Linked DNA regions of Homo sapiens. The protein of the gene in region 1 purifies or fractionates together with the protein of each later gene. This does not show direct contact. Each region holds a gene or a part of one and is shown on either strand. Other genes may lie near its edges. The genes, in order: TOX4 and SERPINA12.

Region 1 (4,022 bases):
TGCTGGGATTACAGGCGTGAGCCACCGCTTCCAGCCCCAGCTAATTTTTTGTATTGTTAGTAGAAACAGGGTTTCACCATGTTGGCCAGGCTGGTCCTGAACTCCTGACCTCAGGTGATCCACCTGCCTTGGCCTCCCAAAGTGCTGGGATTACAGGCGTGAGCCACCACACCTGGCCATATTTATGTCTGTTTTAAAAAATAACGGTATGAACCAATTAAATTTTTCTGCCTATACCCCCTGCCCCACACACATTTAAAACATCAAGCTAAGGAACTTAAGACCTAGGAGAAATGAAAAGCTTTGCATGTCCAAAGTTTAGGATCCTTGGGTAACAACTCTGAATAATAACTGTTTAGGCTATATCCTGTCCAGTTGAACTAGTGACCTCTGCTTAGTTAAGGAGTGGTCTGGGGCAGAAGACTGTCTTAATGTATCTCACTAAAAACACTATGGGGCACACGGTGGCTCACGCCTGTAATCCCTGCACTCTGGGAGGCCGAAGCGGGCGAATCACGAGGTCAGGAGTTCAAGACCAGCCCAATGAACATGGTGAAACTCTGTCTCTAATAAAAATACAAAAAATTAGCTGGGTGTAGTGGTGGGCGCCTGTAATCCCAGCTACTCGGGAGGCTGAGGCAGGAGAATCACTTGAACTAGGAGGTGGAGATTGCAGTGAGCCAAGATTACACCACTGCACTCCAGCCCAGGCAACAGAGCGAGACTCCGTCTCAAGAAAAACAAAACAAAACAAAACAAAACAGGGCGGGTGCAGTGGCTCACACCTGTAATCCCAGCACTTTGGGAGGCCGAGGCAGGCAGATCACCTGAGATCAGGAGTTCGAGACCAGCCTGACCAACATGGAGAAACCGTCTCTACTAAAAATACAAAATTAGCCGGACATGGTGGCACATGCCTGTAATCCCAGCCACTCGGGAGGCTGAGGCAGGAGAATCTCTTGAACCCAGGAGGTAGAGGTTGCAGTGAGCCGAGATCGCACCATTGCACTCCAGCCTGGGCAATGAGTGAAACTCCATCTCAAAAACAAACAAACAAAAAAAAAACAGTATGAGTACCTTGGGTAAGAGAAGTCAACTGCTGCAAGGAACTCCCATCTGCAGGATGTTTTGTGCTCCTGGTTGCTGGGCATTAAATGCTAGTAGCAACCCCCACTGTTATTGGGTCAACCAAAAACATTTTTATACATTTCCACTAGACTAAAGACTTAAAAACAAAGGCTCACCTCAGGAACTACATCTGTGATCATCTCACAGATAGTCTCAGGAGAAGGTGCCTCCACTGTATGGGCCTCAGGGCTGTTGTTCATAGGCCGCTCAGGACTACTTTCCACAGTTGGTGGGACTAAGGTAGTCTGCATTTTCAAAGTGGGTAGAGGCACACTCTTGATCTGCAGAGGAGGAGGCTGTTGCTGTAAATTGATTCGAACTTTCTGAGGTGGAGGCTGTTGCATGGCCTGGAGTGGAGGAGGCTGCTGCAGAATGGTAACTTGCTGCTGAGTCGGGGGCTGTGGCATCTGTTGTAATGGAGGGGGCTGTAGTCGGGGTGGAGGCAGTTGCATAGAAGCAGCAGCAGCAGCAGCTGCTGCTGCCTGCAACACTGACCGAGTGACAATCTGGGCTTGTTGACTGGGCTGGATAGTAGCTGTACTGGTTTGGCCTAGTTGGAGCCCCCGGGAGGTCACCACTGTGGCTGGGATAACAGTAACCATCCCTCCTTGAGACATAGTAATAGAAGAGGGCAACATTTGTTTGGTAATAATCAACTTGGTGATATTGGGCTGACCCCCAGCTCCAGAAGATGCCTGGTTTGCCACATAGGATGAAAGGGTGGAGTTAACAACAATGGATGGGGACAGGGCAGGGGGCTCTATTGAAGCTGGTGCTGGAGATGCTGGGTCAACAGTAGCCATAGGAGGTGGAGAAGGAGTTTGTGATGGTGGTGCTGGATCCAATTCCACTGTTTCCACAGTGGCCTAAAAGAAGACATAAATCAATCTATCAATTAATCAATCACTTGGTGGTATTTACTTCTTAAAACTGCTAACAAACACTTCCAAAAAACTTCTTACTGGTTTAAATATTCATTCTATCCTATCCCTCTTACCTGACACTCCTGGTTGTCTTTGTAAGCAGCCAGTGCCTTCAGATACTCTTTCTTGGCAGCCTCAGTTTTCCTCTTATATACCTGCAAAAAAGAGACTTTAAAAAAAAAAACAAAACTCCCCATACTCTTAGGAAAGACTGATAGTTCTGTATTATTTATCAATGAATGACAATTCATCTTAGTCTAATCACTGACAACCTCTATCAGTGAATTCAATTCTGAAAGCTAACAGTCAAGACAACCTCCATGGCAGACTCACTCCACTGAGCATACCTCTGAAAGACAACCAATCGACAGGAGTCTGGCAAGAATAGCTACATTTATTTTATTTTGCTACATTTATTTTATTTTTTTTAAATTTTTTTTGAGACAGAGTCGTGCTCTCTCGCCCAGGCTCGAGTGCAGTGGCGTGATCTTGGCTCATTGCAAGCTCTGCCTCCCAGGTTCATGCCATTCTCCTGCTTCAGCCTCCTGAGTAGCTGGGACTATAGGCACCCGCCACCACGCCCGGCTAATTTTTTGTATTTTTAGTAGAGATGGGGTTTCGCTGTGTTAGCCAGGATGGTCTCGATCTCCTGACCTTGTGATCCGCCTGCCTCTGCCTCCCAAAGTGCTGGGATTACAGGCGTGAGCCACCACGCCTGGCCGAGAATAGCTACATTTAAGGCAAACATCAACCCATGCTCACTTCTGTAACAAAAATAAACCCTAATCTGCCAGGTGCGGTGGCTCACGCCTGTAATCCCAGCACTTTGGGAGGCCAAGGTGGCCAGATCACGAGGTCAGGAGATTGAGACCATCCTGGCTAACCTGGTGAAACCCGATCTCTACTAAAAAAAACAAAAACAAAACTAGCCCGGCGTGGTGATGGGCGCCTATAGTCCAGCTACTCAGGAGGCTGAGGCAGGAGAATGGCGTGAACCTGGGAGATAGAGCTTGCAGTCAACCAAGATTGTGCTACTGCACTCCAGCCTGGGCGACACAGTGAGACTCTGTCTCAAAAAAATAAATAAATAAATACAAAATAAACCCTAATCCAAAAACTGTGTCTTAGCCTGGGACTGTGTCTAACCAGTATATTTTCCCTTATGGAATGTGGTAAATTGTTTGCAAAGATGGCCACAACAACTCCTCCCATATGACCTTTCTCCCTTCAAGAGCTGAAGCCTATTTCCCCCTCCTTTGAATCTGGGCTAGCTCTAAAAAGTTTTTAAACTCTAAATCCAAAAAAGAAAAAGAAAGAAAAAAAATAGGCCAGGTGCGGTGGCTCACACCTGTAATCCCAGCACGTTGGGAGGACAAGGCAGGCGGATCACCTGAGGTCAGGAGTTTGGCACCAGCCTGACCAACACGGTGAAACCCTGTCTCTACTAAAAATACAACATTAGCTGGGTGTGGCGGCACATGCCGGTAATCCCAGCTACTTGGGAGGCTGAGGCAGGAGAATCACTTGAACCCAGGAGGTGGAAGTTGCAGTAAGCTGAGATTGCACCACTGCACTGCAGCCTGGGTAACAGGAGCGAAATTCCATCTCAAAAACAAACAAACAAGTAATTCTAAATCCAAACTTGGTAGTGGATTTGAGAGTTAGCCACAGCATGCAGCTTATCAAGTAATAGCCTAATTTTATAAATGGGGGAAAAAATGAGACTTAGAAAAGTTAAATATCTAAAAATTGAACAGAAGGACACTACATGAGGAATTATAGGAGACATTATTAGTGGAAAGTACATGGGAAGAGTTAAAGAACCTGGATTGTGTCTCAACTTTACCACTTAAATGTTATATGACCTTAACTGGGCAGTGGGCTCCAGTTTCCACCTTAAAAGCGGGAAATGGTAGCTATTTTTGAGAGTTATTGTAAAGATGCAGTACTTCTGTAACAATTATTATTATT
Region 2 (3,500 bases), about 73 Mb from region 1:
TAAACCCGGTGCCCTTCTTTGGGCTGAGAAATCTGAGGAATCCTTGCTAAAGGTGTGCCTTGGCCTCCCAACAGAAGACCCTCACAAGAGCCCTGCACTTGAAGAGCCACTTCAGGCCTGCTCTGTGGCTCACCTGTTTTAAAGGACTGATATTGCTTTAAGAAGAAATCACTCTATATACATCAGAAATTAAATTATTATTTTTAAAAGCACATTTAGAACTAAGTGGTGGTAAGACATATCTTCTCTCCCCTGTTAGAAGTAAGAGAAGCCCCATAAACAAACTCTGATGACCACAGCAATATACTTTCTCCTCCTTTCTGGAAAACAAAGAGTGGAGAACATGTCCCCATTCCACTTGTTAATTTGCCCTGTAGATTTCTGCCTTCATTCCTTAAGAAATATGTTTGAGTCCTCACTCTGTGTCAGGCACTGGGGCACTAGAGCAATGCCCAGGAAATGGTCCATATTGATGCTGCAGACTGACTCTCAGCCCAACAAGCCCCACAGCCTTCTCCAAACCCTCAAGAACCTTCCAGCTGTTTGCCTGACCTGGTCCTCCTCCCCTTCCGTGACTGCATTCTAGGAGGAGGGGTATGTGGGTTGGAAAGGCTGAGAGATCATTGACTTCAGGACTATCTGTGCCATAAAGAGGGAAATGAGGCCCAGAGTGGACAAAGGAAGAGATTGTGGTTGCAGTGTGCATCAGTGGTGAAGGCAATTCTGCAGAAATGCATTGAACAGGCTGCTTCGCCTCACTTTCTCCATGAACCAGTGAGTTGATGGATCCAGCCTCTATCCTCAGAGAGAGATAAAGATTCACAAACAGCTCACACACAAGGATGACTGTGGCCAGCATCATGCAGCAGGGGTGGACCCAAATTGGAGGCACCACTTATGTCCCAAGACTTCTCCCATCCCCACATTCATGAAGCTTCTCTCTCTAGAAAAGCACTGGGCAGTAGACATCCATAACACTCTGCCAAAGATGTTCAACAAATTCTTCAAGAGGGGTTTACCTGGATTTTGGAGATCCTCTAGAATTTTCCTTTCATACACCCACCTGTGGACAGTGCTACATCCTCCCTCGATCTGAAGCAAGCTTCGTGTGGAATAGACAAGAAGCACCGGATCTTTTGGAAGGGAAGGTCTCATACTCACAGTACATTCAGAAGTCCACTGAGCCAGCCAAATGCATCTGCCTTTCTTGCTTTATTATTTATACTTCCATGGCCTCTTGGAAGAGTAAGGCCAATACAATGAGCTGGCGTGTATGGGCAGGTGATGGAGGCTTTGGAAGCAATGGCCACACCACCTCCCTGGGAGCTCTCCCTGTGGAGGCAGCGGCATGATATCGTACCGGCCACACCCACTGGGCTGTGGCTTCCCTAATGAAGTCCACTAGACACCTTTTGCAACGACTCTATTTCCCAGTTGCTCTCTGGGTATGGAAGCCAGAATAGTCTACAAGTAGATGAGCCTAGAGTCCTAATACTGAATATTCAACCCAAGTATCATCATTGCTGCCCATGGGAACAGGTTGATAACTGGGCTTCTTGGGGTCATTCCCATGTATCCCTCACCATTTTCTTTTGCTATTTTTTCATGTGTTCCAAATTAGCTTAGCTCACATGGAGTCCTTTGGGGAAAAAGTTCGAGGACAGACAAATAGACAACTAAATGCGTAGATTCCGTTAGGAAGAACAGGAATTAAAAATTCACCTCAAAGTTCATGATCATGGAAATTACAAATTGTTTTCCTATTGCACATTTGTTGTGCTGGAGTGGTGAGACTATGGTTGGGTTCTCTTGTGCTGGGGTGATGAGACTATGGCTGAACTCTGTTGTCTCTGCCTCCCCCTTACTTTTCTATATTTTCCAAATTGTCTTTAAAAAACAGATATTACTTTAGGATTAATTTTTCAAAGGCTTAAAATAAAATAAAATAAAATTCTTATCTTCAGTTTTACCACTTGGAGAGAGAAGCATTGAAGATGTCTGGGAACATTCCAAACCCACTGATGCTGGGATGGAAGAGCAATAAGCTCAACATGCCTATCTTCAATTCTGCTTAATCTAATGAGCTCCAGTGAGCAGAAAAAACATTCACATATTTCTTCCCCATTGAGTGGTGTTTCACAGTAGGTCGTATCTGATCGAAACACCTCGGAGGCCTCGGAAGAGCCATGGGTGTTGTTTTCCCTTCCTTTGGGTTGCTGCTTTTAGCAAAGACATGACTCTCATTCCCAGAGCTATTCAGAGCAGGTGACCCAGACAAACCTTCTTGGAAAGAGGAGACACTAGTTCATTCCCAGGCCTGGTTCAGCCACAGACTCTATGCACTCAGGGCCTAGATGAACAAGGACATGGGGATATGGGTTCCAGAGCTGCCCAGATCAGAAACCACCCCTGAAGATGCCCCTGAGCCACCACCTTCCCTCGCCCAGGCAGCAAGGCCTGCCTGCTGGGATGCATGGGTCAAAGACACCATGTGAACGGCGAGATGAGAGACTTCACACTGGCCGGCTCTGGTCACCAAGGGGTTGCAGAGGAGACAGAAGGACAGGCTGAGACCAAGGAGTACAGGTGGTCCTATTGTGACTGTAGAGGCTATAGTGGTGGAAGATCAGAGCCAGTGAGGTGGACACTGACCCAGAATCCAGGTCTGTACATCTGGTTTGGGAGGGAAAACCTGCCCTCTAATGACAGGGTGAGGCCTGTGTGAGTCTGAGGGCCATGCCTCCCTGCCTGCCCCAGACACTCTCTGCTCCAGGGTAAATTTCCACGGGAGACATGCAGGAAGAGGCCAGGGTAGGGATGCCCACTGAGCGACACGGGCAGCACTGGGGATGCCTGAGTTCAGACAGTGCCAGAGGCCAGTAGGCCATGGGCAGAGGGTAGCCACAGGTGGGCTGCCGGCCAGCCAGGCGCTACACCTGGGTTGGGAGTTGCCTGTCCTGCCTGGGGAAAAGAGCCCCGGAGGAGGTGCACGTCTGTGGAGAGCAGTGAAGGATATAGGCATGGGAGGGAGCAGCCCCCTTCACGTGCCCATTAAGGGACCTCAGCCTAGACTTGAGGCTGCCCCGACTGCCTGTAGTTAAGATTCAGGTCCCATGGATTTGTGCCTGGTGTTCATCAGGGGCTAGAAGGATGAAGGAGATTGTCCAGCCTGGGAAGATTATTGTTATAAGTTAATGGGCCTAAGGCACTGGTCGGAGGCTGAGGGGTGGCCTGAATATTTTTTACATTATTGCCATGTGTAGGGGTGAGAGGGGAGCTAGGAATTTCTGGTCCTCATCCTCACTCTTTGGATCTCCCAGATGGAAGAAACATGTTAGTGACCATGCCACACCCTAACTCCAAGAGCTCTGGTCTGATGGGAACACAGAACACAGAGATACAAGTCACACTAGGTAAGGGCCAAGGTAGAGGTAACTCTGGGAGGTGAGAACACACAAGAGGCACCTGATCCTAGCTGGGGTGCTCTGGACTGTGTCATA

The links.
Region 2: the proteins of TOX4 (region 1) and SERPINA12 purify together in Homo sapiens (affinity purification with mass spectrometry; 2 studies listed by BioGRID and IntAct, with this or other methods). This does not show direct contact.

The regions. Positions count from the first base shown.
Region 1 is NC_000014.9:21,490,480-21,494,501, reverse strand, and holds part of TOX4 (TOX high mobility group box family member 4), read right to left. Parts: intron 2,207-4,022; coding exon 2,126-2,206; intron 1,995-2,125; coding exon 1,245-1,994; intron 1-1,244. UniProt on the Homo sapiens protein: Transcription factor that modulates cell fate reprogramming from the somatic state to the pluripotent and neuronal fate. In liver, controls the expression of hormone-regulated gluconeogenic genes such as G6PC1 and PCK1.
Region 2 is NC_000014.9:94,502,970-94,506,469, forward strand, and holds part of SERPINA12 (serpin A12 precursor), read right to left. Parts: intron 1,254-3,500; exon of another isoform or gene 1,064-1,253; intron 1-1,063. UniProt on the Homo sapiens protein: Adipokine that modulates insulin action by specifically inhibiting its target protease KLK7 in white adipose tissues.